Homo sapiens: one gene and its partners. The protein of the gene in region 4 purifies or fractionates together with the protein of the main gene of each other region. This does not show direct contact. Each region holds a gene or a part of one and is shown on either strand. Other genes may lie near its edges. The genes, in order: ITIH2, P4HTM, ARL8A, LIPG, TMED5, GALNT18 and NAAA.

Region 1 (3,500 bases), on a different chromosome or scaffold from region 4:
TATGTATTTTGTAGAGAGCTTTTTAAAAATTCTATGTGATTATCACTAGAGTCATTGGGTAGAAAGTGGAAAATATTTGAAGTATAAGAAAGGACTCTTAACAGAGCTGTCAATCACTGAGTTGATTGCCTTGGGAAAAGTGAGTTTATCATCAAGGAAATCATCACACACTTGTCAGCGGTGTTATAGAGGAGGTCAAGCACTGGATAAGTAATTAGATTTAATCTGTGGTTCTCAACTTGTTTTTTTTTTCCCATAGAGAAACATATGGCAGATGGCATTGACCTGCTGTGCACACGCTCTTATGTGGTTTCCTATAAGCCAGGGCAACCCAGTATATTTTTCTCCTCCCTAGAAAGTATATTAAAATGCAAGTAAGTATGAGGTTGTTACCACAGAGATAGCCTTAAGTTTGCTTTAGCTTATTAGAAACAAAAAGCAAATAATTCACAAGTTCTAACGCTTTGAAGAGGAGAAAATTATTGGGACCAACCTCACAATGACCCTTGACATCCAGCCGGTCCTCTGGGACAGTTGACCACTAAAGTCCATTCTAACTATGAGGGGTTTTGATTCTGTGAGTAGAGCACCTACAATTTCTGGCTCTACACAGAAGTTACTCACATGGAGAAGTTGGAAATGAATGCTCCTTTGGGGATCTGAACATCAAACACGACATTCTGAGGCTGCGGGGAATTGTTCACCACTTTGCTCTGGATCATGGTGGTGGCCATCCGAGAAGTAATAGTAGACTGGACTTTATAGCTATAAAGAGTTACTTGATCAACCTCTTCCTGAAATTGGCAAGAAAGCATAACTGTACTGATAGAAAAATCACACAGAACTTCATCAAATGTAGTGCATTTGATGTTAACAACACTACATTTTACTTGTTTTACTAGCAGAACAATTCCAGGGCCTTGGTAAGGACAGAATTCATGTATGGTTAAGCATTCTCCTAACTTCTTGGAACCCGCAATGAGCAGAAGTCTGCCTTGGTTTCAAGATACTTTGAGCTAAAAGGCATTTTTCAGCCCTATGAGTCTATAAATAATGATTTTTCAAAAATTAGAATACAAGTAGAAAACGGTGTGGGAAGCCAGATTGGATTGAGGAAGTCCAGGTAATAACTCCAAATGCAAGACCATCAGCTGGGGAGAGGATACTGGATTGCGAGGTTGAAAGAGGAACTTGGTTGTATCTTTAGTAGGGGTCACACAGGGGTGCTGTGGGGTGGAAACACACATATGGCCTCCACCAACCCCCCCTTACAGCTCTCTACCTTCTTTAATCTCCTCTATTACAATTTCATCTGCAGTCCTTTTCTCCTCCCCCAAGTCAAAACAAGCTAGGAGAACAGTGACGGGTGTAAGCAAGAGACATTGATCTTGGACAGGGCATTCTGATGCAAGTATTGGTCCAACACTCTGGACCTCCTTACCCGATCACTACTGATTTAAAGCAGCTCCTGTGTGAAGAATCACATATGTAAGTGTGCTCAAAGGCAAGGTCCTAGAAACCCACACCTTTCAGGAGGTGACTGAGAGCTGCAAGCTCCTTCAGGTCTATGGACAACTATGAGACCCATTAGATTTTGCTTTTTTCTCCAAAAGAATTTACTTATCTCAATACCAGGTCTCATTCCCCAAACTTTGTAGTCCAACATTAAACCTTTCGACTAATTAACCATGCAACTCACCTCAAGCTAAAATAAAATCCAGGCTAATCTATGTGTCCTTCCTCCCCCTGAAGTGTGCACTTCTGGCAGTTTCTGCCAATTCAGGGCAGGAAGCACAACATAAGCCACTTGTCCTCAGGCTGTTTTCTTGCCACAGGATGGTCTACTCTGAACATCTCAGGGAACTGGGCCGTTTTGTGTTTAAAAGTTCCTTTCCACGGGCACTCTTTTATTTTCCAAAGCTGTCAGGTGTCATACTTTAAATCAAAATGGTGCTGGAAGCAATGGCTCATGCCTGTAATCCCAGCACTTTGGGAGGCTGAGGGAGGTGGATCACCCGAGGTCAGGAGTTCGAGACCAGCCTGGCCAACATGGTGAAACCCCATCTCTACTAAAAACACAAAAATTAGCTGGGCGAGGAGACATATGCCTGTAATCCCAGCTACTTGAGAGGCTGAGGCAGAGAATCTCTTGAACCCAGGGGGCAGAGGTTGCAGTGAGCTGAGATCATGCCATTGCACTCCAGCCTGGGCAACAAAAGTGAAACTCTGTCTCAAAAAAATAAAAATAAAAATGAAAACGTAAAAATAAATACATAAATCAAAAAGGTTGAGTAGGAATAAATACATAAATTTATACAGTGGGAAGGAACCTATGATATATGGCAAAACTCAAGAAAATGAAGAGAAGGGCCCCTTCAGCTCTTGGTGGCCTCTCTCCTGTCTGTAAAGACTGCACTCTTCAATGCTGAATTTTAGAAACACTTGCAAACAGTTGGGCAAGGCAGTATTTCGAAAGTCAGGTAAATACTCGGTGATGAAGAAAAAAGAGACACCCAGATTGATTTCCTGGTAATTATTAACAGGAAAATCATTCAATCTGTAACAACATCAAGTCAACTTACCATCATTTCTTCCGATTCTCCTGGAAGGCTTCTCTGTGAAAGGAAGTTAGACAATCATTCTTCAACTGTATGTCACTTATTACCTTGAGAGCCAAAACCGTTTTCTCAGTCAAAAAAGAAATTTTATTTTTCTTCAATACTGAGCTGTTATTCATTCACTGGAGTTGAGACATAAATATTGAATATTCTTGAAAACTATTTTCCCACTGGTGAGTTTCTCAATAAGTTTCTCAACCAGTTCTGGTGGCGTGTGTGTCATTCTTGGATATAATGCTAGAACAAGTAATTTTTAAATAAAAATATTCAACCAAATGCATCCTGGGTAGCGTATATCCCCTTGATGCTATTTGCTCTATTTTTTACTCAGTTGAATGGAGACTTTGATCCTCCATTCGGCCATGAGGCTGTGGGCATGCTGTTCCCACTGTTTGCAGTGCCCCTGCTAGGTTCCTCAACCCCCATATGGAGAACTCCTACTCACCCTTCAGATCTCAGCTCCAGCAGAATTCCTCCAGTGAAAATCTCTAACACCCCAAGACTAGGTCGGTTTCCTTTACTAAGTGTTTTTGCAGCAGCATATTCCTTCCTGCAGAGTGCTCACCTTGTTTCATAATGATTCATTCTATTTGAGGGATTATTTGACTAAAGTCTGTCTCTTCCTTTAAACTAAGCTACATAAAAGCAGGGATTTTCATGTATTTCCTCCACAGTGTAACCCCTGAGGCAAACACAGTGACTGGCACCTAGAAAATTCTATGCTTTTAACCACCATGCTAGGAGATTATCCATACACTTGACTGTCCTGAGGAAATGAACAAAGGCGATTCCCTTGCCTTTGAAAGTGAATGGCTTAAGGGTGGTGGGTGAACATGTAATGTTTGGTGAGCTGTTAATAATAGATCCAAGAAGTCGGGTGTT
Region 2 (3,500 bases), on a different chromosome or scaffold from region 4:
GTGGTGAGCCAAGATTGTGCCATTGCATCCAGCCTGGGTAACAAGAATGAAACTCCATCTCAAAAAAAAAAAAAAAAAATCTGAGCAACGACTTGTGGGAAGTATGGGATAAAGCCAGATGACTGTCAGGAAAGAGGGGTCCAGGAAGGAACTAATACTCACCCCATTACTACTACACTACTAACGACTACTATGAACAGACACATCTGAGGAGGCACTGTTTTCTCTCAGCAGCCTTCCTGGGATCTGTATATATCTAATTCATATTGATGTTAGGTTAAGTAAGCCATGAAGCCAAAGTCTCCCTAATAAACAGCTTGTCCTATAAAGCAGAGAATGAGCCGGGCTTGGTGGTTCATGCTTCTAATCCCAGCACTTTGGGAGGCTGAGGCGGGTGGATCACTTGAGGTCAGGAGTTCGAAACCAGCCTGACCAACATGGTGAAACCCCGTCTCTACTAAAAATACAAAAATTAGCTGGGCATGGTGGTGGATGCCTGTAATCCCAGCTATTCGGGAGGCTGAGGCAGGAGAATTGCTTGAACCCGGGAGGCAGAGGTTGCAGTGAGCCAAGATCGTGCCACTGTACTCCAGCCTGGGTGACAGTGAGACTCCATCACAAAAAAAAAAAAAAAAAAAAAGCATAGAATGAGAAACCCAGATCTAAAGTCACCAAGGGCAAATTATGAAAAGCAGAAGAGATTTGACAAAAGGTAAACTGGTTCTGGTTAAGCCATCAGATGGATCTCTGTTTCTGCAGATGAACTTCAAAAGGCATAACCAAGAGATTGCAATCAATGATTACAGGAAGTCCAGATGTGTGAGAGGGAAGAGGGTGGTCATGGTGGGGCAGTTCCTGAATACTGTGGTATTGGATGACTACAAAGAAGGATGCCTCATCCCCAGCAGGAGCAGTGTCTGTCTTCTGGGCCTGCCTGTCCCTCTGTCCATTGGTCTGCTACCCAGTTATTCTAAATGGGCAAGCAGGGCCCAAGAAGAGTGGACCTGCTATAGATTCTGCCCCCTCTGCCATGCTGTTCTTGGATCTAAACCTGTGACCTGCCAGCTTCAGGGACCCAAGATACCTGGGATCGAAGAGTGGATGCTAAAGATGTGAGCTGGGGCAAGGGAACTGGGGTCCACCCCAAGGTGCCTCCATCTCTGTAGAAGGGAACCCTAGCACTTCTCAAGGAAGACCCCGTGCAGCCCCCAGTCTCTCCTTGAGAAATATTTCCTGTTTCCCACCCTTGTTTCTAAAGACACTTGGCAACTGGGACCTGGGCCACAAAAGGCCCACGCTTGAGCTCCTGGCAAATACTTCCATGACTGGTAGGTCATTTTCCCTTGGTAGGGAAATAAAGGATTTGGAATATTGGGTGTCAGCTGAGGGCACCATCCTGTTCAGAACAGAAGTGCTCCATTTCTGAACCATTGCCACCTCTCTGGGGACATTGCTTTCTTACATGTGGCCCACTTCTCCCGCTGTCCTACCCCACCCCACACTGATTCTGTCATAGCAGATCAGATCTCATGGCTCTCTCTTTTTGTTTTGTTTTGTTTTGTTTTGTTTTTGTTTTGAGATGGAGTTTCACTTTTGTTGCCCCGGCTGGAGTGCAATGGTACCATCTCGGCTCACTGCAACCTCCGCCTCCCGGGTTCAAGTGATTCTCCTGCCTCAACCTTCCAAACAGCCGGAACTACAGGCACCCGCCACCACACCTGGCTAATTTTTTGTATTTTTAGTAGAGATGGGGTTTCACCATGTTGGCCAGGCTGGTCTCAAACTCCTGACCTCAGGTGACCCACCCACCTTGGCCTCCCAAAGTGCTGGGATTACAGACATGAGCCACCGTGCCCAGCCGCTCATCACTCTCTTAAATGTCTCCAACATTTTCCATTTCACTTCTAAGTCTCATTTGATGCCTAAAAGCCCTCTCGCCTCTTAGACTCATCTCCTGCCCCCACCCCCGACTCCATTTACTCCCTGCTGATCCTCAGACACCACAAGCTCACTACTGCCTCAGGGCCTTTGTATGTACTATTCCCTCACTAAAAGGCTTAGACCTGGCTCTTCCCACAGAGCGTGCCTTCAGCTCCAGCAGGCCTCTGCTCACACATCCCATCCTCAGAGACCTCTTGTCCTCAAACCCATCTTAAAAGGTTCCCAGGCACCCTGTTGCATCAGCCTGCTGGGTTTTGTTCTCAAATGCTTAGGACTGCTGGAAACTATTTTCCGTATTTATTTGTGTCATTTGTACCTCTGCCCACAAAGGTGAGCTGCATATGTAAGAGGACTGATTTGTCTCAGCTGTGTGTCCAATGGCCAGAGTTGTATCTCCTGCTGATTTTTTTTTTTCTTTTGAGATGGAGTCTCGCTCTGTTGCCCAGGCTGGAGTGCAGTGGTGTGATCTCGGCTCACTGCAACCTCCGCCTCCTGGGCTCAAGCCATTCTCCTCCTGCCTGAGCCTCCTGAGTAGCTGAAATTACAGGCGCCTGCCACCATGCCCAGCTAATTTTTGTATTTTTACCAGAGGCAGCGTTTCACCATGTTGGCCAGGCTGGTCTCGAACTCCTGACCTCAAGTAATCCGCCTGCCTCAGCCTCCCAAAGTGCTGGGATTACAGGCATAAGCCTCCGTGCCCAGCCTCCCGCTAATTCTTGGCTGGCTGGAGGAGTTCACTGGGTGCTCTCAGCCCAGTCCAGCATCTGCCTGCTGGCTTAGAGCATCCTCCACGTATCCTTCTGACTTGGCACCCTCTTCAAAGGCAGCAGGGGGTACTACCAGTGGCCAGCAAGAGTTTTAATCCATTTTTCTTAACAATTTGAGGTAAATGAGTAATTGCCACCAGTATACAAAACAATTTATTTTAAAATCATGACTGCTTTATCTTAGGATTTCTAAATGTATTCTTTTTCAGCTTAAGAAAACAATTAGGCAGCTACATCAGACCATAGTCCTCCTCATGACAAACACTGGAGGCCCAAAAGTAGAGAAACAATTTTAGTGTGCGTATCAGTTCAAGGTTGTTGTTTTGTTTTGTTTTGTTTTTTGAGACGGAATCTCGCTCTATGGCCAGGCTGGAGTGCAGTGTGGTGCGATCTTGGCCCACTGCAACCTCCGCCTCCCGGGTTCAAGCAATTCTCCTGCCTCAGCCTCCCATGTAGCTGGGACTACAGGTGCGTACCATCTCGACTCACTGCAACCTCCGCTTCCTGGGTTCAAGTGATTCTCCTGCCTTAGCGTTCCGAATAGCTGGAAATACAGGCACCCGCCACCACGCCCAGCTAATTTTTGTATTTTTAGTAGAGATGGGGTTTCACCATGTTGGCTAGGATGGTCTCAATCTCTTGACCTCGTGATCCGCCTGCCTCAGCCTCCCGAAGTGCTGGGATTACAGGTGTGAGCCACTGCGCCTGGCTAGTTCGAGTTTTTAAGGAATTTAGCTCAGGCTGCTGCATTGCCACACACACCCCTGCTCTTTCATAGGCCTGCTGCTTGGC
Region 3 (3,500 bases), on a different chromosome or scaffold from region 4:
CCTGGCCTCTGCCCCACTTCAGCTCGCTCCTCCCAGGGGCCTCCGTTGCCCTCCCCAACACACACACACACACACACACACACACACACAAAAACAGTCCTCTGCACCCCCCAAGCTTCTGGGCCCTCACCTTGATAGTCACATTCCCTTTGGTGATTTTGCGCATGTTGAAACCCACGGTGGGGATCATGTCCTCGTTGAACTGTCCTGACTGGAAAGAAGACTCAGAATGGGAAACAGTGCAAAAATCGATATGCCCCCACCGCAGACCAAGAGGCTGCGAGAACCATGCAGAGGCCAGGCCAGAGCTTCCTAGACTTCCCACTGTGGGGTACTCTTGCACATCCTGTGCTTTCAGGCAGGATGGGCTATCACCAACCTATGTGTCCCGCCTACACCTGGGGATGCCCTGTGAAAAGACCCGCTTTTGTCAGACAGTCTCAATCTCTTTGCCTAGACTAGGGGAAAATTCTTCCTCAAGTCTAACCTACATCTCTCTGTAGTAACTGACGCCACTTTCTCTCCAGTGGAGAGGAAGAAGAAATTACCTTCCAGCAAGAGAACTTGAAGCAAGTCATGTTCTAATAGTTAAGGAGGATCTCAAAGAAAGCAGATGAATTTTCAAACTAAAAAATCAAACTTTTTAGGGCAGAGTATATTGGTCATCCTGAAAATGCAGTGCATGCCAAGCAATTTCTGGATTATCCATGGTTCAGTTTATTTGTACTGTACTCCAGTTATTGGGAAGGATAACCTACACTCTATATCGTCTGCTTATTTATCTATGTGTCTCCTCACTAGAAAGAACACTTCCTGGGAGAGGACCCAGGTCTATAGTAACACCATTAGTAAATGTTTGCTGAATACTGGGGGTTTGACTGTAATTCCATTTTCCAAAATCCATTCTGTATTGTCTCTAGGATTTCTGGATTCTTCTAAACTACCTACAGTCTTCAAATAAGGCCAGACCCAACTCCCTCCCAGGTCATATCTCCATGTTCACAGGTAGGACACTTCTGCTTATCCCTTGGAAGCAGGCTAAAGAGATGGGGCTCGGCCGGGCGCGATGGCTCACACCTGTAATCCCAGCACTTTGGGAGGCTGAGGGGGCAGATCACGAGGTCAGGAGTTTGAGACCATCCTGATCAACATGGTGAAACCCCATCTCTACTAAAGATACAAAAAATTAGCCGGGTGTGGTGGCGTGTGCCTGTAATCCCAGCTACTTGGGAGGCTGAGGCAGGTGAATCGCTTGAACCCAGGAGGTGGAGGTTGCAGTGAGCCGAGATCATGCCATTGTACTCCAGCCTGGGTGACAGAGCAAGACTCCGGCTTGAGAAAAAAAAAAAGATGAGGCTCATTCAACATTGAACCTGAGGGTGATAGCCCTGTTCCTTTTTTTTTTTTTTTTTTTTTTTTTTTTTCTGAGACAGAGTCTCGCTCTATGGCCCAGGCTGGAGTGCAGTGATGTGATCTCAGCTCACTGCAGCCTCTGCCTCCTGGGCTCAAGCGAGGGTCTCCTGCCTCAGCCTCCCCAGTAGCTGAGACCACAGGCATGTGCCACCACACCCAGCTAATTTTTGTATTTTTAGTAGAGACAGGGTTTCACCACATTGGCCAGGATGGTCTTGAACTCCTGACCTCAAGTGATCTGCCTACCTGGGCCTCCCAAAGCGCTGGGATTATAGGGGTGAGCCACGGTGCCCGGCCAAGCCCTGTTCCTTTACCATGCCTTTTTCTCCCACCAGCTGGTAGGAATAATTTGCCTTGGGTTACATAAAGAGATCAGGGGCCCTGACCATTAGCCAAGATGTAGGAGATGATTGGCTCTTATTTGGTGCCTCCATGTCCACATGAAGACCCCTGATATCCCATCTGAATAGACTGCTTTGATTCCCTTTTTTTTTTTTGAGACGGAGTCTCACTCTCTCGCCCAGGCAGGAGTGCAGTGGTGTGATCTCGGCTCACTGTAGCCTCTGCCTCCTGGGTTCAAGCAGTTCTCCTGCCTCAGCCTCCCAAGTAGCTGGGACTACAGGCGCGTGCCACCATGCCTAGCTAATTTTTTTTTTTTTTTTTTGTATTTTTAGTAGATTCGGGGTTTCACCATGTTGGCCAGGATGGTTTCGATCTCCTGACCTCGTGATCCGCCCACCTCGGCCTCCCAAAGTGCTGGGATTACAGGCGTGAGCCACCGCGCCCAGCCCAATTCCCTTTTATCTGCAGGAACCACCTATTCATCAGGGCCTTAGGATGATATAAGAACTGAGTACCCAGGACTGACACCCAATGACAAGGTCCAGCAGCGGTTTCCAACCTGAGGTCCACAGTTGGGCTTCAGAGATCCCCTGAACCCCCTGAAACTGTACACAATCTGTGTGTGTGCAAAGTTTTGTTTGTGTGTACATTTTTCTGGAGAAAGGGTCTCTCACTTCTTTCAGATATCAAAAAGTTCTGAGAGCCCCCAAAGTTAGGAACCACTGAGGAAGAGGGAATGGCTTCTTCTAGCTAAGCAGGGAGAATTAAGTGTGCTGTAATTACCCAAACCCCGGCAGCCTGCTGCAGTCTACCCCATCCCCAACAATAGAGTCTGAGGAAGGAGGCCCAGTTCTTGTTTGTCTCTCATCCCAGGGGGTGCTTGGATAAGAAACTTGAACTTCTCTGGACCTCAGTGTTTCTGAATGTAAAACTGGGGAGAAGGGTTTCGGTCTCCTAGGAACTGTAAATAAGACTCACAACATGCTTGGAAATGGTTTCGATATAGCATGGGGAACCATCACTGCTCTTTGGCAACTAGAAGATCCACAGGCTACCAAGTAAATGAGAAGCCCAGCCTGGCAGAATGTGACCTTGGCAGAGGGGGATGCTGGGAGGACCTTCAAGGAGCCAGGCTCCCCGGCACCAGTAGGTCTTGTTCAGCTGTGAATCGGAGCTAAGGTGGAATCAGATTATGACTTAATTTCCCTGCTAATGCCTCCCTGTCTCATAGGCTCCTCATTTAAGGTTGGAAGTAACCTGAAGTCATGCAGCCCAACCTCTTGTCTCAGACTTCAGTCCCTTCTGCCCCATCCCCTCTTGGGTCAGTTCCAACTATCAGAAAGTTCTTTATATTGAGTTAACAATCCGGCCGGACATGGTGGCTCATACCTGTAATCCCAGCACTTTGGGAGGCTGAGGCAGGCAGATCACCTGAGGTCAGGGGTTCGAGACCAGCCTGGCCAACATGACGAAACCCCATCTCTACTAAAAATACAAAAATTAGCCAGGCATGGTGGTGTATGCCTGTAATCCCAGCTACTCGGGAGACTGAGGCAGGAGAATTGCTTGAGCCTGGGAGGCGGAGGTTGCAGTGAGCCGAGACTGTACCACTGCACTCCCAGCCTGGGTGATAGAGCAACACTCTGTCTCAAAAAAAAAAAAGAAAAAAGAAAAAAAAGAAAAAAAAATCTATCATTCCTAGAATGTCCACCCATTGTTCCTAAGTCCCCTTGGGCACTCCAAGA
Region 4 (3,314 bases):
TGAGCCACCGCACCTGGCCCTAAGGAGTACATTTTATTAGCATTTTAGTTTATTTAATATTCATTGTTCTATTTAAATTTTCTTATTCTAATTGTGACGTTTTACATTTTTTCAGTTTTTATACAGGTTTTGAATTTATATTTCATAATATCTATTAGCATGATGACTTTCACATTTATACCTTTTATTCAGATGGAATTCATTTTTGTTTTGGGGGGGTTGATGGTTTTAACTTCTACTTTAGTTTCAGGGGTACGTATGCAGGTTTGTTATGTAGTTAAATGGTGTGTCACAGGAGTTTGCTGTACAGATTATTTCGTCACTCAGGTAATAAGCATAGTACCCAATAGGTATTTTGGAATTCATCTTTGTTGCGTGTTAAAATAGGAATCTAATTTTGTTTCTCTTTGTCAAATGAGCCTACTTTCTCATCATCCATCCATTCCTTTCCCAAAGACTAATAGGCCCCTTTTATCATACATAAAATTTCCGCATATATGTGGAAAGGATTTTATTTTATTCTATTCTATTTTATTTTATTTTGAGATGGAGTCTCACTCAGTTGCCTAGGCTGGAGTGCAGTGGCGTGATCTCAGCTCACTGCAAACTCCATCTCCCAGGTTCGAGCGATTCTTCTGCCTCAGCCTCCGGCGTAGCTGGGACTACAGGCACGTGCCACCACGCCCAGCTAATTTTTGTATTTTTAGCAGAGACGTGGTTTCACCATATTGGCCAGGCTGGTCTCGCACTCCTGACCTCGTGATCCTCCCATCTCAGCCTCCCAAAGTGCTGAGATTACAGGGGTGAGCCACCGTGCCCACCCAGGATTTTATTTTTGTCTCACACTGTCCTCTTATCAATTCAAATGTTTACAAAACACAAATACTTTCTTTTTTACCATGTACCTTTAACATTCACAACAACCCTGAGCAGTATTGTCTCTGTTTCTTAAATGAGCAGATAGAGACTCAGAAAGGCTGTATTTAGCCTAAAACTCACATAATGCTGGATGACACACCAAGAATTCTGATTCCAAACTAACTGCTCTTTTCCCAGATTACCTCCTGCCTGTTTAAGCACCTAGTTTCTTATATCTAATTTCATCTATTTATTTAAATATTCATTGAATACCCATGATGTTCCAGACACTATTCTAGCTTCTAAGATAACGGCAGAAAACAAGCCAGATAAAAATCTGTGCCATCAGAGAGCTTACATGGCAGAGGGCTCAGGGTAGCTCTGAACACAGAGGTGACACCTGAGAAATACCATATTTGATGACAAAGACTGTTCTAGTACCTACTTTGTATCCATCCTTCCAAGGGGTCTGGGGCTTCAGCTTGTTTGGAGAGTCAAAGGAAGTCCTGTGGAAGTTCCCCTGACTCTAACTAGTAACTGAACCCCCAAGCCAAAGAAGGCACTTGCAGTCATCCAGGCTATGACTCTTCCTTTGGGAAATTTCAACAATTTTCTTTACTATGCCAGAGACACCATTTTCTGCTTTCCTCTGACATCTGAACCAAGTTAAGAACTTATCTCTTATTGTCTAACCCAACTCCCTACAGCCATTATCAAGCCTGGTTTCAGAATGTCCTGGTAGAGATGGACAGTGGAGTTTCCACCATCACTAAAGCCCTTTATAAAGAGCTTCCTTGTCATTTAGAAATGTTTTCACACTTAAGACCAGAAATAAAGTCAAACTGATGTAATGCATTATACTTCATAGTCATAGATCAATTTAAGATTACTAAAAATTGACTACAGGATTTAATCATTTAAAGGGTACTCTGGTCTATCTCGCTGGCTTTAGCAGAGAAAAAACTAATTCCTGATAAACGGATGGCAAGATCCAATTTCCCTTTTAATAAATAGTAATTGGTAGGGGGAAAGGGGAAATAGGGACGGAATTGTTAAAAGATACAAAATTACAGCTAGTGGCTGGGCCCGGTGGCTCACACCGGTAATCCCGACAGTTTGGAAGGCTGAGGTAGGTGGATCACTTGAGGTCAGGAGTTCAAGACCAGCCTGGCCAACATGGTGAAACCTTGTCTCTACTAAAAATACAAAAATTAGCTGGGTGTGGTGGTGCATGCCTGTAATCCCAGCTACTTGGGAGGCTGAGGCAGGAGAATCACTTGAACCCAGGAGGCGGAGGTTGCAGTGGGCCAAGATCATGCCCCTGCACTCCAGCCTGGGCTACAGAGCAAGACTCCATCTCAAAAAAAAACAAAAAAACAAAAAACACCAAACGAAACAAACAAGATTACAGCTAGACAGGAGGAATAAATTCTAGTGTCCTATACCACTGAAGGGTAAAACTAGAGTTAATAAAATATGGTTTCAAGTAACTAGAAGGAGGATATTGAATGTTCCCAACACAAAGAAATGATACATGTTTGAAAGGATGGGTATGCTAATTATTCCAACATGATCACTATACCTTGTATGTATCGAAACATCACTATTTTCCCCACAAATATGTACAATTATTATATGTCAATTTTAAATAAATAGTAATTGGATCTTCAGCAGGGCCCATGGGCACCCTAAATAAAGACTGTATTTCCCAGCCTGTCATGTGACCATGGATTTATTTCTGGCCAATAGAATGTAAGCAACTTCTCAGTCATGTCTTTAAGAGGAGACTGTTCATCCCTTCCCTTTTCTGGCTTTCCATTGGCTGGTAGGGGACCCCTGGGCTGTGGGGATGCGAGGAATACCCCATGAATGGCACAGTGAAAAACTAAGAACCTGCAGCCCTCTTGGCCTGTAGAATAGAACCTTACTACCAGCTGGGACTTTAACCAATAGAGAAATCAGCTTCCCTCTGGTCTAAGTCACTGATATCTAGTTCCAATTCAACCAAACCTAATAATCTCACTAATGCTCCCCAGTGTCCAGCCATGCTCCCTGTTCTTCCTAACATCCACCTTCAGGCCTTCAAGCTGCTACAATTGAAATAATTTTTCTTCTCGTCTTCAGTGAAATGATGTTCTTGTTCTGGTTCTTTAGTGAATTGCTGTCCACTTCTGCTAACGATGAGTGTCAAATAAAGAATATGCCTTATATTAGAGTAACTTTTTGTCAGACTCTAGGTTGGGGCAGCTATATTCTTTCAAACTTTAAGAATTGGCCAGGCACGGTGGCTCACACCTATAATCTCAGAACTTTCAGAGGCTGAGGCAGGCGGATCACTTGAGGCCAGGAGTTCGAACCCAGCCTGACCAGCCTGGCCAACATGGCGAAACCCCATCTCTACTAAAAATACAAAAATTAGCCAGACATGGTGACGCATCTCTGTAATCCCAGCTACT
Region 5 (3,500 bases), on a different chromosome or scaffold from region 4:
CACCTTCTCAGAAATGGTGCTGAATGTATTGTCAAAGCAGAACATGTAATCACCAACTTCAGTCTCTACACTGTATAAAAAAAAGTACATGTTTTAAGTTACCTGTATTTCTATTTGTGATGAAAAGCAACTAAAGGTAAAAATAAGAAGTAACAGGCTGAGTGTGTTGCCTCACACCTGTAATCCCAGCATTTTGAGAGGGCAAGGCTGGTAGATCACTTTAGCTCAGGAGTTTGAGACCAGCCTGGGTAACATGGCAAAATCCTGTCTCTACAAAAAAATAACAAAAATTAGCAGAGTGTGAGGATTGCTTGAGCCCGGAAGGTTGAAGATGCAGTGAGGCATGATCATGCCACTGCACTCCAGCCTGGGCAACAGAGCAAGATCCTGTCTCAAAAAAAAAAAAAAAAAAAAAGAAACCAACAAAACAAAAAACAAATAACATAGTTTATAGTAATTGGACAGCTTACCCATAAATTTCCTTAGTATTGAAAGATAATTTATAATTTCTTGGGAAAGAAGCAACCTGAAAATATATATGTTCAAGTACAACTTAGACATGTTTGGCATTTACTCAGTAAATTATGGTTAGTGACCTCATTTTTGGAAAAGGATAGAATTAAAAACCTGTATACATAACTCATAATAAACTTTAATATTTATACATTATTAAAAGTATTTTATCATGAGTTCAATTCATATGCAGATATGACTGCCAACCTACCCTACAACTGAGATTAAACTGAGTTTTGTTTTCAAAAGCAGTGATGGATTGTCCTAAATGTCTTCTTCCAGGCCTCTTACTGATTTTGCCTATTAACTGCCACTGGCTCCCTTATAGATGTTTATGTTTGATCCTAAATGCTTTTTTTGAGAATTAAATAAAACTAGTTTATATTTTATTATTTAATTCTATAAAGGTAATTCAGCCCATCATTAATTATGCCAAGTGCTGAAGAAAAAAATGAATAATATCTGAATTACCAGTACCCTAGTTAAAATTAGTTTCCCATATTAGCGAAAGTTAAAAGCAGGGCCAGGTGCGGTGGCTCATACCTACAATCACAGCGCTTTGGGAGTCTGAGGCAGGATTACTGTAGGCCAGGGGTTCGAGATTAGCCTGGGCAAAAGTGAGACCTTGTCTCTACAAAAATTAAAAAATTAGCCGAGTACACACCTGTAGTCCTAGCTACTCGGGAGGCTTGGTTGAGCCCAGTACTTTAGGCTGCAGTAAGCTATGGTCACACCATTGCACTCTGGCCTGGGCAACATAGTGAGACCTTGTCTTTAAAAAAGAAATTACATTTAAAAGAAAAAGAAAAAGCCTACTTAAGAAAAACCAGTGACATACTCAGATGTTTGCTGCTCTTACAAAATTAATATAGCTAAAGATAAAAGCTTTGTTTAATGTTTAAAAAACAGATTTGTAGGCCGGGCACAGTGGCTCACGCCTATAATCCCAGCACTTTGGGAGGCCGAGGCAGGCAGATCACGAGGTCAGGAGATCCAGACCATCCTGGCTAACACGGTGAAACCCCGTCTCTACTAAAAAGACAAAAAATTAGCCGGGCGTGGTGGCGGGCGCCTGTAGTCCCAGCTACTCAGGAGGCCGAGGCAGGAGAATGGCGTGAACCCAGGAGGCGGAGCTTGCAGTGAGCCGAGATCGCGCCACTGCACTCCAGCTGGGCAACAGAGTGAGACTCCGTCTCAAAAAAAAAAAAAAAAAAAAAAATTTGTAAATCTGGTATAGTGATTAATAGTGAGTTGGACTGCCTGAATGTATATCCTGGCTTTGCCGTTCACTAGCTGTGTAACCTTCAGCAACTTAATTGTTCTATGCCTCAGTTTCCCCATTGGTAAAATAATATTTACGTCATAGGACTGTGGTTAAGAATAAAAAAATTAGTACATGAAAAGTGCTGAGAACACTGGCCTGGCATATCAAAAGAATGCAATAAATGTGAACTATTATAAACTCAATTATTTTCTCCCAATTATTTAATGAGAGGTAATTCTACACAAGGAAGCAGTAAGATACTTATTTTTCTAACAGTGAATTTTATTATCTCAAAAAGGGAGCAAATAATTGGGGAGAAATAAAGACTGACATACATTTTGAACATTTTTAAAATTCTGAAACTTAAAAGATGAACTACATTTTTAGTTTTGTTTTTTTTTTTGAGATGGAGTCTCTGTCGCCAGGCTGGAGTACAGCGGCGCCATCTCAGCTCACTGCAACCTCCGCCTCCGGGGTTCAAGCAATTCTGCCTCAGCCTCCCAAGTAGCTGGGACTACAGGCGTGTGCCACCATGACCAGCTAATTTTTGTATTTTTAGTAGAGACAAGGTTTCACCATGTTGGCCAGGATGGTCTCAATTTCTTGACCTCGTGATCCACCCACCTTGGCCTCGGAAAGTGCTGGGATTATAGGCGTGAACCGCAGTGCCTGGCCCATTTTTACTTCTTATACACCTATCAAAGAGAAAACAGTTAATTCCAAGTATATCAATATAAACTGACTTTTAAAATTACTATTTCTATCTTATTTAGTAATAGCTTATGCAAATATTTTTCTGAGCTCTGCATAGGTAAAATGCCATTTAAAATGCATTTTAAATGAGTATCTTAAAAAATTATTGTTGAGACATTTTTTTCCTCTCATCCATTCATACATGTATTCAGTGTTTACTGAGTATCGATTATGTATCAGGCATTTTGGTTAACAAAGACCAATAATTTTAATAATAGCTAGTTCTTACAATAGTGTTATGTACCAGGGATGTTCTAAGCATATGGTAGAAAGCAAAGAGTTTTGGTCCATCCTGTCTCCACCCTGCATGTGTATCCCTGGAGACTTATTTGACTTCTCTGAGCCTCCTTGTCTATAAAATGGGAATCTTGAGTCAAAGACTCTATCTCATAGTGTAATGGAAAGATTAATTTAGAAGCCTATAACATGCCAACCCTTGTTTATAGCAAATACTAGATACTCCATATTTGCTCTTCTTCCTACAGACTCACAGTTTAAACATATAACAAAACTGACTTAAGAAAATGTTATAGTAAGATAATAGAATGGAACCAGGAAACATACCAGTGAGATATGAAAAGAGGGAAGTGAGGTGTCAGAAGAAGAATATATGGTCTTTTGCTGAACTCTGAACTCAAAGAGTTATAACAAGTATTTTATTTTTATATAGTTCCCTATGATCAGATCTTTTACTTTCAGGCCTTCTAATTACCTAAAACGAATGAGGTCTGAATAAAAAAAAAAAATTTACGTACACACAAAGATATACTGTCCTGTTTTAAGAAAGAAAACTATGGACAAAAATGGCATATAGCCAGCAGCTCAAGAAACTTTAAGACATATACCTGGAACAGTAGCTTTAAGTTAAAATAGAAAGCTTGTGCTGGCCAGAAGGCAGGTTTAAAATGCCACGATAGATTGAATGGAATACCAGGGGAATACTAATTTACTAACCAAAGCACAGAAAAAA
Region 6 (3,500 bases), on a different chromosome or scaffold from region 4:
TGTTTGATAAGATGATCTCCCATTCCTCTCTACGAGAAACATTCATCCTCCTTCCTATTCTGTAGAGAGCATTGGTTTTGTAGCCAGTTTCCCTTCTTGGCTCTACCACCCATCAGCCCTGTGACCTACCTTGAACAAACTCTAAGTCTTCATTTTCTTACCTCTAAAAAGGTAAGAAAAAAGGTAATCTTACCATGTTGTGAAGATGAAAAGGAATCACTAATTTTAAAAATTACAATTTTATTTGTTCATTGAAATAAATAAATAAGTAATCATGCCTGGGCAGCACCTGGGCCAGTCCCTGACCTGCTAGCATACTGTAGCTCTCTTCCTCCATTCCCTTGATACAATCAATCTTTAATTCTCTATATGCCTGTTGCTCTTAAAATAAATCAAGGGTTTAGCTAGGATTCTCATTTGTCGCTTCAAATCTCTCCTTAGCTTTCTAACTCTCATATCCATTGGCCTAAGCAATTTTGGTACTGTTCTCCTAAATCCCCAGATGCCGCTAGCACAACATTTATTAAGCCAAGCTTCGAATCCTGTCTTGCCAGAGTCCCTGAATTACCTTCCTGCTCCTCTGGGATCTCAATGGCCTTTAACTCCAAGTTCCCAGGGGACAGAGATGGATGCACAAGTCAGACTGGCGAAGCCCAACAAAGCACCAGAGCTTGTTAAGATGCAGCACTCAACAATCTTAATCAGGGAACTCTGCTCTGAGACTTAAACTCAGTGCATTTGTAGAATGAACCTATTCACGCTAAAGAACTGGCCACAAGCCTCCTTGTAGGCATCATTTTTCATTGTTCTCACCTGTCCCAAGGTGAAGAGTGCAGATGCCACTTCTCTGGATCTTCCCAAACACTGTATTTCTGTGAGCTCTTAAAGGATGGTGGCAATGGAAAGTAGCCCAGCAAAGTATGCCTGTTGGTTCTAAAACCATTTTAGCAGTGGCTCCATAAGGGAAGCCACTGAATGTTTATGGTGGCTGGACACTCAGGGGTTTCCACTAGCATCATTAAGGACAGCTTCATCTCCCAAAAATAAACCTTCCAAAAACTGAAATTGAATGTCAGGCAGTGAAAGAGAACTACATCTCAGTACTGCATCCCCACTGGGACGAACTGTCTAGCAACATATTTTAATCCATAATCGTGTAGTCAGAAAAACCACCAAAGCTTAAGTGTTCATATAACAAGGAATCCTCTTGCTTAAAGTTCCAGTTGGCTGCACTGGAACTACAGGGGATCTATAAAAGGTATACAGATCCACAGAGAAGATTCCAGAACAGCAGTCATTCCCAATCACTGCCACAACATACTGTGCTGTGGAGCAGTTGTGAGGTAATTAGTGAGTAACAATAATTTAAGTACCAAAGCTTATGAATGATTAGCTTTAACTCTAATAAATTAAAGGGATTTCAAGGTTGTTACATTCCCTTGCATACTAATATGCCTTCTCAAGTAGGAAAATAAAGGGTGGAGTAAGAATGAATGCAATGTGTTAGGAGGTGCATCCTCCTAGCCCTGCCCTAGGGCACATGCCTTGTATGTAGGCCTATGTGTGAGGAAGGGGGAAACATCAAGGACCCCTGGGCTCAAGCATTGCATTACAGATGGAGCTGACTCTAACCCCAAAGGCAAGTGAGATTCAATAACAATTGTAGGAGCCATGAAATGACCACATCCCTGCCAAATCCAAGGCAGAAGCTCCACCCTTCAAGAGACATTCCAGGCCAGCATAAACAGCATGGTCCACCATTCATTGATGGTGGCTTAGCCACCAGTGGACCTCAGTCACTCTGCCTCTTGCTCCTGACTTGAGTGTCATCCAACTTGTATGGCTTCTGCCCTTCCGCTTCATGCATAATTCCATCTCTCCCCAAAGCCCACCATGCTGCCTTCTGGTTACATTTATCACTCACATTCAGCCGGGTTTTCCCTCCAGGAACTTTCTGTGTAACATCACCTCCAGCTGTACTGCTTGGCAATGTGCTTCTCCACAGGGCAGCCTGTCTGTCCCCATCTCCCAGATAGAACCCAGCTAACAAAAAGCCAAGCTTGGCTTTCTGCCACAAACCAAAGGAGACCCTCAAGACCCAAATCAAGACAATAGCTTTGTATTAGTCCATTTTGCATTGCTATAAAGGAGTACCTGAGGCTTGGTAATTTATAAAATTATAAATTTATAATTTGGCTCATAGTTCTGCAAGCTGTTCGAAGTCCAGCATCTGCTAGGCTCCTGGGGAGACTCCAGGAAGCTTACAATCACAGCAGAAGGTAACAGGGAAGCAGGTATGTCACATAGTGAGAGAGGGGTGAGAGAGAGAGGCAAGAGAGTGAGGAGAAGAAGAAGAAGAGGAGGAGGAGGAGGAGGAGGAGGAGGAGGAGGGAGGAGGAGCAGCAAGGCTCTTTAAACAACCAGCTCTTGAATGAACAAATACAGCAAGAACTCATTCATTACCAGGAAGACAGCACCAAGCCATTCATACAAACACCTCCCACTAGGCCCCACCTCAAACACTGGGGACCACATTTCAACATGAGATTTGGAGGGTACAAACATTCAAGCATATCAAGCACATTCAGCTATTCAAGTGAAGTGAGGTCAGAAATCCTATACGATGGTAATGAAGACGCTCCAGTAACCCTGTTTGTGACTCTGAATCCCATAAATACCTTTGGGAAAACATAGGCCAGCCTAACCCAAGTGACTAAAGCTGAACTTCAAGGCCCTCATAAATGACAAAACCAGACGTGGCTCTCTGACACTTTTCATTCTGAATTCTCCTTGAGATTCTCCACCAACCTACTTATCAAGGGAAAATAACAATTTATGTCAAGTGAGTGGGAAAGAATGTGGAATTCATTTATTTTACAGCCTACACACTTCTGGCTAAAAATGAAGATTCTTTGGTCACGGGGAAAAGTTGTGTCCTTTGGCAAGGCTTTTCTTCTTCATAAAGCTGTGGTTCTGAACTAGTAACAAAGGTAATTAGGCTCAACTCCTAAGTCCTGCTATTGAACTCTCTCAAAATGTCAATCACTGTTACTAATATAATTTCACATGCAACAGTTCATTCCAGAGGACAAATAGCTTTACTATTTAAATGACACTCTTTCCTCAAATAAACTCCATGCACTCAGCAAACATCATATCCTCTTCTTCACAAACGCTGCCAAGTCAAAGCTCAGATGAGAAGAACACGAGCCAATTCTAAGTAACATCCATAAGCTATAGGAGACAGAAAAACATCCAAGCTCAGGACATCTGCTGATTCTTAGCAACCATAAATGATTTGTAGTCATGGCGAACAACCTGCTGTTACTGACCTGGTATACATTAATATGCACATAATATGACTAACAAACTTTCAGGAAACAAAATGCAGTTAATAACCCATTTCTCCATTGTTGGGATGATCTTGACTCAATGAAGTAAGATAACGGATTTAGAAATTAGTCACATAATGTAATACATTATTAATCATGGTATTCAGA
Region 7 (3,500 bases), on a different chromosome or scaffold from region 4:
CACTTTGGGAAGAAGCCGAGGCAGGAGGACTGCGTGAGCTCAGGAGTTTGAGACCAGCCTGGGTAATATAGTGAGACCTTGTTTCTACTAAAAAAAAAAATTAAAAAAAAATTTTTAATGCCCCCCCCCCCCCCGCCAAAAAAAATAGCTAGAATTTGAATGTTTCTAGTGTAAAGAAAAGACAAATATTTAAGGTAACATATCACAATTAGATTGTGCACACATGATCGTGCATTTATGAATGTGTGATTTGAGACAGAAAGACTCTGTCTCAAAACAAACAAAAAAAAATGGGCAAAGGACTTGAATAGATATTTCTCCAAAGAAGATATACAAATGGGCAGTAAGCACATGAAAAGATACTCCATATCATTAATCATTAAGAGAAATAAAAATGTGATTTGCATTTCTCTGATGTGATTATATGAATGTAACACATCACATGTGCTCCCAAAATATGCACATGTAATGTGTATCAATAACAAAATTAATTTTTAAAAACCCACTCTAGCAATTTTGAAATACATAATACATGATTGTTAACTGTACTCACCTTGCTGTGTGGATCACCAGACCTTATTCCTCCTGTCTAATTGAAACTTTGTACCCTTTGACCATTTCCCTTTTTCCTCAGTGCATAGCAACCACCATTCTACTCTCTGCTTCTATGAGTTCAAACTTGGAGATTCCACATATAAGTGAAATCATGCAATATCTGTCACAGTAGGTTTTAAGCAGGGGAACAACCTGACCATTCTAGTTGCTGGGTAGGGAAGGAATTATAAGAAAGTAAAAATAGTAGCAAGGAGATCAGGTGGACTAATCAGGCAGTACAGGTGTGATGGGGGCTAGCTCAGCAGTGGAGGTAGAATGGACAGGTACAGTCTAGTTCTGCTGTCAGAGCTGATAAGACTTAGGGAGTGAGGGGTCAGTGATGATTTCTGGTAGCAATTGGTTGGGTAGAGGTGCCATTTTCTGAGACATGGGAAACGAGGAGAGGGACAGATTTGAGTAGAGGCAGAGTTGGGTAGAAAATAGGGAAAAGAAAAAAGCAAGAGATCTGCTTAGGCAAGTGTAAGATGCCTAGTAGACGTCAGAGTGGAGATGCTGAGAAGATGGCTGGATGCTCCAGTCTAGGACTCAGAGGAGGCCAGGCCTGGAGATGCAACAACAACAAAAACACTTCTGTGGCCCTTGCTCTGTGCCAGGGACTGCTGTATTTCATATTCGTTAATTCATTTCATCCTCATAGCAGCTATTATCATCCCTGCTTTTTTTTTTTCTTTTTTTTTGAGATGGAGTCTCGCTCTGTCGCCCATGCTGGAGTGCAGTGGCGCGATCTCGGCTCACTGCAAGCTCCACCTCCCGGGTTCACACCATTCTCCTGCCTCAGCCTCACGCCTAGCTGGGACTACAGGCACCCGCCACCACGCCCGGCTAAATTTGTGTTTTTTTTTTTTAGTAGAGACGGGGTTTCACTGTGTTAGCCAGGATGGTCTCAATCTCCTGACCTCGTGATCCACCCGCCTCGGCCTCCCAAAGTGCTGGGATTACAGGCATGATCCACCGCGCCCGGCCCATCCCTGCTTTCGAGATGAGGAAACTGAAGCACCGACAGGTTAAACTCCTTGATCGTGGTCACCCAGCTACAGCAATAAGATTTAAACCCAGGCAGACTGGCCCTGGAGTCTTCAGGTGTTACCCACCAGGTGTTTTGTTAAGCCTCCCCATGCCCTGTGGCATTCATTAGTCCTCCTCATATCTTTATCCTTTCCTAGGGTGGCTTTGAGGCATTGCTGGCACCCCCCATAATGTCCAGAGACTTAATATCACAGCTCATTGCAGCCTGTAACTCCTGGGCCCAAGCCATCCTCCCATTTCAGCCTCCCACGTAGCTGGGACTACAGGCAGGTGCCACCATGCCTGGCTAAAAGCAGTTTGACAGTATTTCATTAAATGCATATGTTGTAGACTAACTTGGTTATTTTTAACTGCTCATACCTTAGATTCTACTAATCAAGTTTGGTAAACAACTTGAGTTGCAAAATGAAAGCCAGTCATTTTTAATAAATATACATGTAATTATAGGCATTCTATTAAAAACCTTAGTAATTGTCATGCTGTGGTTTGGGTACCACAGGTTGAGAACCAGTACTATACATAGCTGACATATGAGAAAATGTGGAAGAAATACATTAGGATAAAGAACTGCTTACTGTGGACACTGATATATACTCAATCACCATCTTCCTGGTAAAGCCTTATGTAAAAAGATAAGAATAAACAATAACACTGGCCGGGCATGGTGGTTCACGCCTGTAATCCCAGCACTTTGGGAGGCCGAGGTGGGTGGATCACCTGAGGTTCGGAGTTCGAGACCAGCCTGGCCAACATGGTGAAAACCCATCTCTACCAAAAATACAAAAATTAGCCGGGTGTGGTGGCACCTCCTGTAATCCCAGCTACTCAGGAAGCTGAGGCATGAGAATCGGCTGAGCCCGGGAGGCAGAGGTTGCAGTAAGCTGAGATCGCCCACTGCACTCTAGCCTGGGCAACAGGGCGAGACTGTCTCAAAAAAACAAAAACAAACAAACAAAACAAAACAAAAACCCCAAAAAAACAACACCATGAAGTCAATCAGGGTTCATCAGACGAGCAACACTAAACTTCAAGATACTCCTTGTATATATCCTTCTCCTTGATTCAGCTGCACGCTGAGGACAGACACAGAGCTCACTTATTTCTAGATTTCCCACATACTGTGGAACTAAATGGTGTTCCCCTGAGATCTGGGGAATGGCAGTGGGGATGTCAATGAACAGAGCAATTGGGTCAGGACCCAGGAGAGCAATCTGAGAACTTCCTCTCCCACTACTAGCTGTCATTTCATCTCACAGCCTATTTCTTTCTCTGCCTAACGAATGGAGTTAAAAATAACAGCCCTGCCTAACAGGACTGTTGTGAGGGTCTAAGAAGAAGACATGTGAGGATGTACATGGTAAACCAGAAAGTGCTTTACAAATGTGGCTTGTATAACAGCATCATATATCCCCTAGATTATCACAGTAGTTTCCAAATGGTCTTCTGCTTCCATCTTAACCTAAAACAACCCAATCTCTACAGAGCAGCAAAAGTAATAGTTAAAAATATAAATCACATCTGTTCACTCCCTGGCCTACAATCCCCCTACAGCTTCCATTATGCTTAAAAACCAAACTCTTCATTGTGGCCCTGCACCATGGCCTCAGCCTCTTCTTCACTTCTAATGTCACTACCCACTTACTCCCATGCCATAACCACACTGACTTTCTTTGGCTTCTGAAATCCACCAAGCTTATTATTACTACCTACGGCCTTCATCCTTGCGGTAAGACCACCAGAAATGGTCTTCCCCTGGCTTCTGCAGAACTAGCTCCCGGATCACATGGGTCAGGCCTTCTCTGACCCTCTGACCTGTACTAACCACCCCACCTCCTCCTTCACTCTCTATCACAGCTTCC

Evidence for each region.
Region 1: the proteins of LIPG (region 4) and ITIH2 purify together in Homo sapiens (affinity purification with mass spectrometry; one large-scale study listed by BioGRID and IntAct). This does not show direct contact.
Region 2: the proteins of LIPG (region 4) and P4HTM purify together in Homo sapiens (affinity purification with mass spectrometry; one large-scale study listed by BioGRID and IntAct). This does not show direct contact.
Region 3: the proteins of LIPG (region 4) and ARL8A purify together in Homo sapiens (affinity purification with mass spectrometry; one large-scale study listed by BioGRID and IntAct). This does not show direct contact.
Region 5: the proteins of LIPG (region 4) and TMED5 purify together in Homo sapiens (affinity purification with mass spectrometry; 2 studies listed by BioGRID and IntAct, with this or other methods). This does not show direct contact.
Region 6: the proteins of LIPG (region 4) and GALNT18 purify together in Homo sapiens (affinity purification with mass spectrometry; one large-scale study listed by BioGRID and IntAct). This does not show direct contact.
Region 7: the proteins of LIPG (region 4) and NAAA purify together in Homo sapiens (affinity purification with mass spectrometry; one large-scale study listed by BioGRID and IntAct). This does not show direct contact.

What each region holds. Positions count from the first base shown.
Region 1 is NC_000010.11:7,706,316-7,709,815, reverse strand, and holds part of ITIH2 (inter-alpha-trypsin inhibitor heavy chain H2 precursor), read right to left. Parts: intron 2,616-3,500; coding exon 2,583-2,615; intron 795-2,582; coding exon 625-794; intron 1-624. UniProt on the Homo sapiens protein: May act as a carrier of hyaluronan in serum or as a binding protein between hyaluronan and other matrix protein, including those on cell surfaces in tissues to regulate the localization, synthesis and degradation of hyaluronan which are essential to cells undergoing biological processes.
Region 2 is NC_000003.12:48,993,241-48,996,740, forward strand, and holds part of P4HTM (transmembrane prolyl 4-hydroxylase), read left to right. Parts: intron 1-3,344; exon of another isoform or gene 3,345-3,500. UniProt on the Homo sapiens protein: Catalyzes the post-translational formation of 4-hydroxyproline in hypoxia-inducible factor (HIF) alpha proteins. Hydroxylates HIF1A at 'Pro-402' and 'Pro-564'.
Region 3 is NC_000001.11:202,138,238-202,141,737, forward strand, and holds part of ARL8A (ADP-ribosylation factor-like protein 8A), read right to left. Parts: intron 212-3,500; coding exon 131-211; intron 1-130. UniProt on the Homo sapiens protein: Plays a role in lysosome motility. In neurons, mediates the anterograde axonal long-range transport of presynaptic lysosome-related vesicles required for presynaptic biogenesis and synaptic function. May play a role in chromosome segregation.
Region 4 is NC_000018.10:49,593,057-49,596,370, reverse strand, and holds part of LIPG (endothelial lipase isoform 1 precursor), read right to left. Parts: 3' UTR 1-3,314. UniProt on the Homo sapiens protein: Exerts both phospholipase and triglyceride lipase activities. More active as a phospholipase than a triglyceride lipase.
Region 5 is NC_000001.11:93,156,414-93,159,913, forward strand, and holds part of TMED5 (transmembrane emp24 domain-containing protein 5 isoform 1 precursor), read right to left. Parts: intron 2,473-3,500; coding exon of another isoform or gene 2,402-2,472; intron 71-2,401; coding exon 1-70. UniProt on the Homo sapiens protein: Potential role in vesicular protein trafficking, mainly in the early secretory pathway. Required for the maintenance of the Golgi apparatus; involved in protein exchange between Golgi stacks during assembly.
Region 6 is NC_000011.10:11,612,006-11,615,505, forward strand, and holds part of GALNT18 (polypeptide N-acetylgalactosaminyltransferase 18), read right to left. Parts: intron 1-3,500. UniProt on the Homo sapiens protein: Catalyzes the initial reaction in O-linked oligosaccharide biosynthesis, the transfer of an N-acetyl-D-galactosamine (GalNAc) residue from UDP-GalNAc to a serine or threonine residue on the protein receptor.
Region 7 is NC_000004.12:75,927,514-75,931,013, forward strand, and holds part of NAAA (N-acylethanolamine-hydrolyzing acid amidase isoform 1 precursor), read right to left. Parts: intron 1-3,500.